Linked DNA regions of Homo sapiens: region 2 is linked to region 1. The links come from fine-mapping of genetic effects on plasma protein levels. A gene starts in region 1. The other region holds a variant in brackets. All regions are shown on one strand. Distances are between the middles of the regions.

Region 1 (5,375 bases):
CTGTAAGTGAGGGTCAGGTCCCATGTCTCATGGCAGATGAGTCCTACTGAGCCTTGACAAGCCAAGACCTTCCATACTGCAAGGTCAAGATCAGGGTCCATGGTGAGAACCACCATAAAGAGCTGCTGTTTTCCCAGGTCCTTAGGTGATTTGAGGACAGGGTTGTATCTAGGGTGACCGCCAAATACCAGGTTACCTTAGGCTTTGCTGGTTTTAGCATTGAAAGTCCTGCATCCCTGGAAACCCCTCAGTCCCAGGCAAATTTGGGCAGCTGGTTACACTAGCAGATCTGAACCTAAAACAGCTGAAGGAAGCAGCAGGAGTTGGAGTGGGGGGTGTGGAGGGTCTTTCTCAGACCCTTCTACATCAGAATAGAAGTCAGATGTAATGGTGCTGCCTGTATTCTCAGCTGCTCAGGAGGCTGAGGCAGGAGAGTCTTTTGATCCCTAGAGTTCAGGGCCAGCCTGGGCAACATAATAACACCCTATCTCTAAAAAGAAAGAAGAAGAAAATACAAAGTAAAATACAAAACTGGGGCTCTGGAAGGAATGTGTGATGTGTGAGTGAGAGGCCTAGAAGCTGAAGCTTCAGTAGATTCAAGATCATCTTCTTCTGCCATGAAAAGGGTTTGAACCAGGCGGGCACAGTGGCTCATGCCTGTAATCCCAGCACTTTGGGAGGCCAAGATGGGTGGATCACCTGAGGTCAGGAGTTCAAGACTAGCCTGGCCAACATGGTGAAACCCCGTCTCTACCAAAAAAAAAAAAAAGAAAAAAAATTTGCTGGGCATGGTGGCGTGCACCTGTAATGCCAATATTTGAAAGGCTGAGGCAGGAGAATCACTTGAACCTAGGAGACAGAGGTTGCAGTGAGCTGAGATCCGCCATTGCACTCCAGCCTGGGTGACCGAGTGAGACTCCAGCTCAAAAAAAAAAAGAGTTTGAACCTTCTTTGGAGCCAACCCAAACTGTATGTGAATCCAAGCTCTGCACCTCAGAGAGAATAAGTCACTTGCTTGGTCGTACACAGCCAATGAGGAAATCTCCCTCCTCTGCAAAGCAGAGAAAATCACATTGGGAGAGCAGTGCAGGTCAAATAAGATAATATGGGCAAATATACATAAGCACACATACAGCACATGGCATGTAGGCTACTCCTTCCCCTTCCCTCTCCAGTGCATGGCTGTTGACTGAGGGAACTGAGGAGAGAGAAATCAACGGCCCTAGATTGGTGAGGAGCAGGGCTAACAGGACCCAGGGAGAGCTGGCTTTTCTCGGCCCACCAAGACATCTACTCCAGGAAACCTTGGCTCTGCCTCTGGCTCCTGGGAAATCCACGGCAAGACTCAGTCTCCACATCCCTATATGGGACTTGCAGAATACTTGCCTTAGCTTTGTCCCAGCACTTTGGGAGGCAGATTCAGAACATCTGTGCAATTTAAAGTGTGTCTTTTCAGCAAAAGAGCCAAGCCTAAGGAGACTCAACAAGGGTTTCGGCCAATTAGGCCTGAAAACTGCTGCACATTCTAAAACCATTGATTCATCTTCCTTCTTCTCTGCAAATCCCTGACCCTTGCTCACAGTAGATCATGTAGGGCTAGACCAAGGGATGGGGGGTGCTCTGTTCCCTCAAAGGCCCCTGGCAGGGGGAGGGGGGGAATGCTGAGTCCTCAGCTGTGGAGACCTCTCCCAGGAGCACACAGAGGAGGGATCTCCTCTATCTGAGAACACATCCACCCAAGGGCATCCTGGGAAGTGGCCTGGCTTGGGCTTGAAGTGACCTGTACCCCCATAAATGGCCCAACCAGGAAAAGGAAAACAGGCTGCATTTCCAAGCACCCTCCAGTGTCAGAGCAGGAGAACGAGGAAGCCCAAGGAGCTTTACCAGCAGCCAAAAAGGTTCCTGGGCTTACCTGTGTCTTCAAGTTATCAGCATCCAGGACCCCAATAGCAGTGCCTTGCTTTGTGTAAATACCCTCTAGGAATGAGATCTCGTGCCTCTCGGGCAGTTCAGATCTATCTTGGCCAGCTCTGTGCAAGTCTGTCCTAAGATGGGGCTTAACTCTGCCTTCAGGCCCTTCACTCTTCCTTGGAAGGTTTGAAGAGTGGGTCAGCTGCCCCTTCATGGTCCCAGACTGGGCACTGACTGGGAATGGGGAGCAGAACTGCCTCTCACCCTGGTGGACACCTGAGGGTCCTCCCTGCTGCCCACCACACAGATCAGACCCTTTGGGAGAGGTGGTCCAGCCTGGGGAACAGGGCAGGAATGGGTTGAGATCACAGAGAGGGGGTCCTGATAACCCCTTACCATCTGCTGCCCATCCATCACCCTTTCTCTTTGCCTTTGGTCTCACGCGGCTTATAGAACCTGCTTAGACTGCTAAGGCAAGGCCCTCTCGGCCGCTCCACTAACTTTTCTTCTGGAATGCTTAGCTCAGAGAAGACAGCTAAGCCCCTGAAAGTCACAGAGGAAGTTGATGAGAAAAGAAAACTGCGAAGCCCAAGCCCCACCAGGACTTAAGTACCCTGGGAAAGCCTCAGGACAACTTGGGGGAAAGACACTCCTGTCCCCCATGGTGTCCTCCTGTCCAGGACTGGGGGCCGCCGGCAAAGGGGGCGTGGCGGGCGGGGAGTCCTCTTGTCACGCCCTCCTGCCCCCGCCCGCGGCTGGGAGCCTGTCGCTCCGCTCTGCGCCGCTAATTGGTCTCGTCAGGCGGCCGGCAGGAGCAGATCCGAGCCGTGTCATCCTCTTAGCGCCCTCACGCCACCCGCCGCTCCCGCCCCGTGCCCCCTCCCGCCGCGGCTGCAGTCGCCGCTACCCCCATTGTGGTCTCTGCCCTCCCCGCGGGCCCAGGGCATGCTCCGTGCCCCTGCGCCCGGTCTCGGCGGCGGCAGGCGACACTCCGCGCCGGCGGAGACATGAGGCGCTGCCGGTGGGCCGCCCTGGCCCTGGGGCTGCTGCGCCTCTGCTTGGGTGAGTGGCCGCTGGGCCGCGCTGGCCGCGTGGATGGCGAGGGAGATGGGCGCTGGCGTCACCCAGGTGGCCAGAGGGACATGGTCCTGGACCACTTCCAGAGTGGGACTCGGGCTGGTGGACGGGAGCGGAGAAGTCCTTCCATCTTCCTGGCCCATTCGGTAGTGGGGAGTGGGGTAGCGGAGTAGTGGGGAGCTCCGGGGCGCTTCTCCAGAGCTGGCATCCTAGGGCCCCAGGGTTTGGCGCCCGGACCCCCGCTGCTCTCCGCTTGCTGGGAACCAGAGCTGTAGGCTTGGTGGCAGCTCCGATGCTGCGTGGGGCAGGAGATAGTGCCCTGACTCGCGGCTTGACCTTGGCTGGGCTGGGGCACTGCCCCTCTCCGAGCGCGGGTGCAATCTGCCCATTGATGAAGGAGGGGTTGGATTGCTACCTGGGTTCTAAGCGCCCACATGCTACGTGTCCCTGACAAGCCCGAGCCCACCGGGGGCGGAGTGGGGGTCAGGGGCATCCTCTGGGCGGCGCCCCAGTGGGGTCCCTCGGTGCACTTGGGTTGGGGAGGCGGAGCGCCCTCCTGCCCAGTAGCTGGGCCTGACGCGGGACCGCGCTGGTGCGAAGCTCCCTCCTGGTGTCTGGGTGTCCTTTGCCTGGGTGTCCGTCTGTTCTGTGTTCTTTTTCCAGCTCAGGCCAACTTCGCCCCGCACTTCTTCGACAACGGGGTCGGCAGCACCAACGGAAACATGGCTCTGTTCAGCCTCCCAGAGGACACCCCTGTAGGTGAGTAGCCCTGGCACCTGCTCCCGATAGGTCTCCCTGAGGGGTGCAGGCAGACTTAGAACACAAAGTGCCCCAGGCACCACCCAAGTTGCTGCGCGCGCCCGGGGGCTCCTTGTTTGCTCTCCGAATTCCCCTGGGCAATGGCAGGAAAGAAGGTCATTGCTGCCATGGCGACTTAAGTCTGGCCAGTCCTGGAGACCAGGGCTCCCCCCCACAGACAGGGTCGCCCCGCGAGGCAGGCAGCTACAGCTGCCCCTTATGGCTGTGTGACCTTGAACAAATGTATTTACCTCCCTGAGCCCCAGGTCTCTAGGCTTTAAAACGGCCTAAGAACATCCAACTTGCTGAGATATGCAGAGAGAGGGGAGGAGAAAGGGGAGATTTCACACTCCTTCTCCCTCACTTTGTGGGTAGTGGGAACCCGGGGAAAAGGGAGAGCAGAGCAAAGTAGGCACCTGGCTCAGAAATCCCTGCAGAACCAGGTCCAGGCATCGGGGACAGTGGTGCACTGTGGGTCACCCCTCCTGCCTTAATGGCTGCTCCCATTTCCCCTTCCCTGTACCCAGGAGCCCCTCAATCTTGGATCCTGAGAGAGGAGTTATTACCAGGCTGAGCAGAACATAGGCACTACAGTTAGGCACGGCAGACCTGCACCTGCTCTGTAACCCGTGTTATAGATTACAATCTGGAAAGTGGCTGATCATCACAACCACCCGCTGTGAAGAATAAACATACAAAGAGGGAAGCAGCCAGCAGGGGTGAGGCCAGCAATGAGCACCAAGTTCAGGGCAGTACCTTTGGCACTGAGTTGAATAGTCACTTTATAAACAGCTGAATCGTTGGTCCTGAGCATCTGCCACTTTTAGGAAAAGTTGGGTCTCAGATTCTATGTCTCTCCACTGTGTTTCCTTCCAGGCTCTCACGTATACACCCTGAATGGGACAGACCCTGAGGGAGACCCCATCTCCTACCACATCAGCTTTGACCCCAGCACTAGAAGCGTCTTTTCTGTTGACCCCACTTTTGGAAACATCACCCTGGTTGAAGAGCTGGACAGAGAGGTATGGGGAGGTGTGGGGAGTGCTGCGGGGCCACTGCCTGTAGACAGACCTCGGTGGGCTGAAGTTCCCCTGGAGCACATTGGTTAGAACCTCTCCACAGAGTAGGGGATGAGGGGGCACACCCCAGGCACATCCACTCTGTGAGATCTCTGGGCCACTTCCCATCAGCAGAGTGGGCTTTACTTTCATGCTCCTCCTTCACACAGAGCGAAGAGTGGGCTCCTTTAACGAGCACCTGCCAGCCCTGCTAATCTTTTAAGCATGTTCCATTAAAAATAAATCCGTTTGCACTTTGAGGTTTCTGAAAGAAACCTCACAAAGTGATTTTTCAAGCCTGTCCTGGGAGAGGCACAGGAACTCAGAGCAGGTCAAGGCTGGAAAGGGTGGTTGGCAGTGAGTCTGAGTTTGGCAGAGCTCCTCCACTCTACACACTTGAGAACTTGCAGGCAACAGGGCATGGGCTTTTTCAGACCGCATAGCAGCCTGGTGTGTGGCTAACTGGACCTCAGCTGTGGGGATGCTGCCAGCTCGTGACAGCCTCCACTAGCTGCAGGACAGGGTAGAGAA
Region 2 (5,375 bases), 530 kb after region 1:
CAGGTAGATAGTATTGGTAATGAATTGGAGAGGACCCAGCTGGTGTTCTGCTGCAGAATTAATTGCTTCCATAATATATGGGAAAAAACTCACACACATCTGGTGTCAGAGTTGTGTTGTGAGAATGAAGTGGCCACAATGACAGAGACATGGAGGCTAGATAAAGTGTCATGGACTAAGATTTAAAATGGCCAGTCAAGAAACTCTCCTCTGGATGTCCTACCTGCCAGCAAGAGAACCTATGCTCTGCTCCTGGGATGATGGTATTCTTTGAAGAGATTCATTTTCCACTTGGTGGTAAGTTGACTATATTGTTCCCTTCTATTCTGGAAGAGCTGGAGTTTTATCCTCTCAAGAGTGGATATCTAAGGATCGTCTTTCCAACTCGCAAACCTTAGATAATTATCGATAGAATTTCATATAACACAGCATTTGACCAGGGAACCAACTTTCTAGTCAAGGAGGTGTGGGAGTAGACCACTGACCTTGGGATCTACCAGTTGTACTGGATACATCATCACTCAGAAGCTTTCATCCTGATAGATTGTTGGAATGGCCTGCTGAAGGCACAGATGAATCACTGTTCAAGAAAAATACTCTGCAAAGATGGAGTACCATTCTTCAGAAAGTGGTACATGCATTGAAACAGAGAATTTTATGCAATGCTGTGTCCTCAACAGGAACAACAGATAAGTCAGAGAAACAAGGGGTGGAAGCAGGAGAGGCCCTACATGACACCATTGCTAATGTCTCAGTGGAGGAATTTGTGATTTCTATGTGCAGCTCTGAGCTTTGCAGAGTTAGAGGCCTCTGTCCCCCAGAAAGATACATGTTCACCAGCAAGGGTACAATTGAACTAAAATTTATGGACGCTGTATGGACCCACTGGGTTAACTGTGTCCAGAAATCAGCAGGCAAGAAGGGAGTCCTTGTTTTGTAATTGATTCTGATCTGCAAAGTTATCACCTCAACATTGAGGGCAGAAAGAATTTAGAATGGATAGTACAGAAGGGAGATGATGAATACCAATTGCAACCTGAATACCACCTCTAGCAATGAAGCCTGTGGTTCATCTCACTCTCTTTCCTCTCCTAAGTTTCTTCTAAGGAAGAGAGGCTCACTAGAGCCCTGAAGGAGCTGCTCTCTGGACATGTATGGAAAAGTCAAAGTGCAATGCACAAAAGGTGGACAATGGTAGACATGGAGGTGTGTCTACAGGAGAATGCCTGTAAAGAGAGGACTTCCCATCCAGTTGAGCAGATGTGGTCTCCTTCAGGATTTGTCTAAGCATATATTTTAAAATCAGATTTACTAAGGGAAAGTGTCTACATTAAATTCAAATTCTTCCTTCTAAACTTCTAAGAGTTTTGAAAAATGCATGCAGTTGTGTAGCCGCCAATAAAACCAAGATAAGGAACATTTTTATTACCTCAAGAAGTTATCCTGTGCCCAATAAAATCAATATAAAGAACATTTCTGTCACCTCATAGTCAATTTCTCCCCATACCTCCATATCCTGACAATCAGCGATCTGTTTTCTGTAGGTATTTTTGACTTTAAAAAGGGTAATAAATGGAATCACTCTGTATATAATCTTTTGAGCTTGTTTTTTTAATCAGGTAGCATAATACATTTGAGATTCATCTATGTCATGTTTATCAGACATAGATGAATCCTTTTTAGTAGGCATTGTATTCCATTAAATTGATGCATTCCATTATATAATGAACCACTGTTTGTTTGTGCATTTTCCTCTTTAAAGACTTTTGGGCATTTCCTGGTTTTGGTGATTATGAATGAAGCCACTATAAACCCTTGTTACCAGTTTTTCTATGAATATATGTTTTCATTTCTCTTGGGTAAATATCTAAGGATGAAATTGCAAGGCTGTTTATCAAATGTGTTTCATTTTAAAAGAAATGGCCAAACCATTTTCTAAAGTGGCTGTGTCATTTTGGATTTCCACTAATGGTGCATATGTGTTCTAGTTGCTTTATATTCTTCCCAGAATTTGGTATTGTCATTTTCTTTCTGGTAAATATTAGCCATCCTAATGGGTTGTGTAGTGGGATGTTATTGTTGCTTTAATTCAAATTTTTCTAATGATGAATAATGTTGAGCATCCTTTCATATTTTCATTTGCCATTTGAATATCTATTTTAGTGACTTATCTGTTTAAATACCTCCTCCCTTTTTACTGTGCTATTTAATTTCTTACTATTGAGTTTTGAGAGTTCCTTATGTTTTCTAGATTCAGTTCTTTATCAAATCTCTAATTTGCAAGTATTTTCTCACTGTCTATGTTTTTCTTTTTTAATTAATAGAATTTTTTTCAAAGCAGTTTTTAAGTATATAGAAAATTGAGCAAATAATACAAAGAGGTTCCATATACTCCCATCCCACCTCACAGTTTCCCCTGGTATTAGCATCTTGCATTACAGTGATACATCTGTTACAAATGATTAGCCAATATTGATACATTATTCTTAAATAAAGCCTATGGGTTATATTAGGGTTCACTTTGTGTTGTACATTCTATAGGTTTTGACAAATACGTAATGTCATGCATCCACCATGACAGTGTCATACAGGATAGTTTCAGAGTCCTAAAAATTCCCTGTGCTCTACCTATTCATCCCTCTCCCTCTTTTCGACAATCCCTGGTATTTACTGATCTTCTCAGTGCCTATAGGTTTTGCCTTTTCCAGAATGCCATATAGTTGGAAATGTATAATATATAGTCTTTTCAGACTGATTCTTTCACTAAGCAATATGCATTTAAGATTCCTCCATGCCATTTTGTGATTTGATAGTTCATTTTTATTATTGAATCAGATTCTATTGTATGAATGTATAATAGTTTGTTTATCCATTCATGTTTGAAAAATATTAATTTTTAATTACCATGGATATATAATATGTGTATATATCCCATTCATCTTTTTAAGGTCCATTTGATTACTTCTAGATTTTGAAAATTATG[A/G]ATAAAGCTACTATAAATGTTCACGTGCAGGTTTTTGTGTGGACATAAGTTTTCAACTCATTAGGGGAAATACCTTGGAGTGCAAAGATTAAATTGTACGGTAAGTCTTTTAGCTTTGTAAGACACTGCCAAACTGTCTTCCAGTGTGATTATACCATTTTGAATTCCCATCAAATGAATGAGAAGTTTCTGTTCCTATTGCTCCACATTGGTACTATCATTTGGTATTGTGTTGGTTTTTTGTTTTTTTTTTTGAATTTTAGCCATCTTAATAGGTGTGTAGTAGTATCTCATTGCAATTACCTAATCATATAGGATGTTGTACATCTTTTTATATACTTATTTGCCATCTGTATATCATCTTTGTTGAAATGCCTGTTCAGATCATTTGTCAATTTTTAAATTAGGCAGGAGAGAAAAAAGCCCCTTCCAAGAAGCCCGAATAGGAACTGCAGCTCCCAGCGTGATTGACGCAGGAGACAGTGATTTCTGCATTTCCAGCTGAGGTACCTGATTCATCTCATTGGGACTGGTTGGACAGTGGGTGCAGCCCATGGAGGGCGAGTTGCAGCAGGGCGGGGCATTGCCTCATCTGGGAAGCACAGGGGTCAGGGGATTTTCCTTTCCTAGCCAAGGGAAGCCGTGACAGACTGTACCTGGAAAATCGGGACACTTCCACCCTAATACTGTGCTTTTCCAACAGTCTTAGCAAATGGCACACCAGGAGATGATATCCTGCAACTGGCTTGGTGGGTCCCATGCCCATGGAGCCTTGCTCACTGCTAGCGCAGCAGTCTGAGATTAACCTGTGAGGCAGCAGCCTGGCAGGGGGAGGGGTATCCGCTATTGCTGAGGCTTGAGTAGGTAAACAAAGTAGCCAAGGAAGCTGAAACTGGGTGGAGCCCACCGCAGCTCAGCAAGGCCCTCCGTAGACTCCACCTCTTGGGGAAGGGCATAGCAGAACAAAAGACAGCAGAAACTTCTGCAGACTTAAAAGTCCCTGATGACAACCCTGAAGAGAGCAGTGGTTCTCCCAGCACGATGTTTGAGCTCTGAGAATGGACAGACTGTCTCCTCAAGTGGGTATCTGACCCATGTGTAGCCTAACTGGGAGACACCTCCCAGTAGGGGCCGACTGACACCTCATACGGGCAGGTGACCCTCTGGGACAAAGCTTCCAGAGGAAGGATCAGGCAGCAATATTTGTTGTTCTGCAATATTTGCTGTTCTGAAGCCTCCGCTAGTGATACCCAAGCAAAAAGGGTCTGGAGTGGACCTCCAGCAAACTCCAAAAGACCTGCAGCTGAGGGACCAGACTGTTAGAAGGAAAACTAACAAACAGAAAGGAATAGCATCAACATCAATAAAAAGAACATCTATACTAAAACCCCTTCTGTAGGTCAACAGCATCAAAGACCAAAGGTAGATATAACCACAAAGATGGGGAGAAACCAGAGCAGAAAAGCTAAAAATTCTAAAAACTAGAGCACCTCTTTGCCTCCAAAGGATCGCAGCTCCTTGCCAGCAATGGAACAAAGCTGGATGAAGAATGACTTTGATAAGCTGACAGAAGTAGGTTTCAGAAGGTCAGTAATAACAAACTTCTCCAAACTAAAGGAGGATGTTCAAACCATTGCAACGAAGCTAAAAACCTTGAAAAAAGATTAGACGAATGGCTAACTAGAATAAACAGTGTAGAGAAGACCTTAAATGACCTGATGGAGCTGAAAACCATGGCATGAGAACTATGTGACACATGCACAAGCTTCAATGGCTGATTAGATCAAGTGCAAGAAAGGGTGAATCGAAGGGTGATTGAAGATCAAATTAATGAAATAAAGTGAGAAGAGAAGTTTACAGAAAAAAGAGTAAAAAGAAACAAACAAAGCCTCCAAGAAATATGGGACTATGTGAAAAGACCAAATCTATGTTTGATTGGTATACCTGAAAGAGATGGGGAGAATGGAACCAAGCTGGAAAACACTCTGCAGGATATTATCCAGGGGAACTTCCCCAACCTAGCAAGGCAGGCAAACAATCAAATTCAGGAAATACAGAGAACACTACAACGATACTCCTCGAGAAGAGCAACTCCAAGACACATAATTGTCAGATTCACCCAGATGAAGGAAAAAATGTTAAGGGCAGCCAGAGAGAAAGGTCGGGTTACCCACAAAGGGAAGCCCATCAGACTAACAGTGGATCTCTCTGCAGAAACTCTACAAGCCAGAAGAGAGTGGGGGCCAATATTCAACATTCTTAAAGAAAAGAATTTTCAACCCAGAATTTCATATCCAGCCAAACTAAGCTTCACAAGTGAAGGAGAAATAAAATCCTTTACAGACAAGCAAATGCTGAGAGATTTTGTCACCACCAGGCCTGCCTTACAAGA

Which allele goes with the higher level. Positions count from the first base shown, and alleles are read on the strand shown. Strength reflects both the effect of a copy and how common the allele is.
With allele A in place of G in region 2, the plasma level of the protein whose gene starts at base 2,695 in region 1 is higher (moderate association).

What was found. PIP is the chance, under the fine-mapping model, that this variant and not a neighbour inherited with it causes the effect. The UK Biobank Pharma Proteomics Project read protein levels with antibody pairs (Olink). The fine-mapping took linkage between variants from a reference panel, not from the people measured, so its PIPs are less certain.
Region 2: its variant is fine-mapped to the plasma level of the CDHR1 protein (UK Biobank, PIP above 0.99).

Annotation. Positions count from the first base shown.
Region 1 is chr10:84,191,843-84,197,217 of GRCh38, forward strand. CDHR1 (cadherin related family member 1) reads left to right here and starts at 2,695. Exons shown (of 17, transcript NM_033100.4): 1 at 2,695-2,973; 2 at 3,652-3,747; 3 at 4,663-4,808. The coding sequence starts at 2,919. RefSeq lists silencers at 2,591-2,720, 2,791-2,910.
Region 2 is chr10:84,723,741-84,729,115 of GRCh38, forward strand. No RefSeq gene overlaps it. Among named protein-coding and RNA genes, the nearest start is that of CCSER2, 400 kb to the left of the region's middle. The variant A/G (reference allele first, on the strand shown) is at 2,984.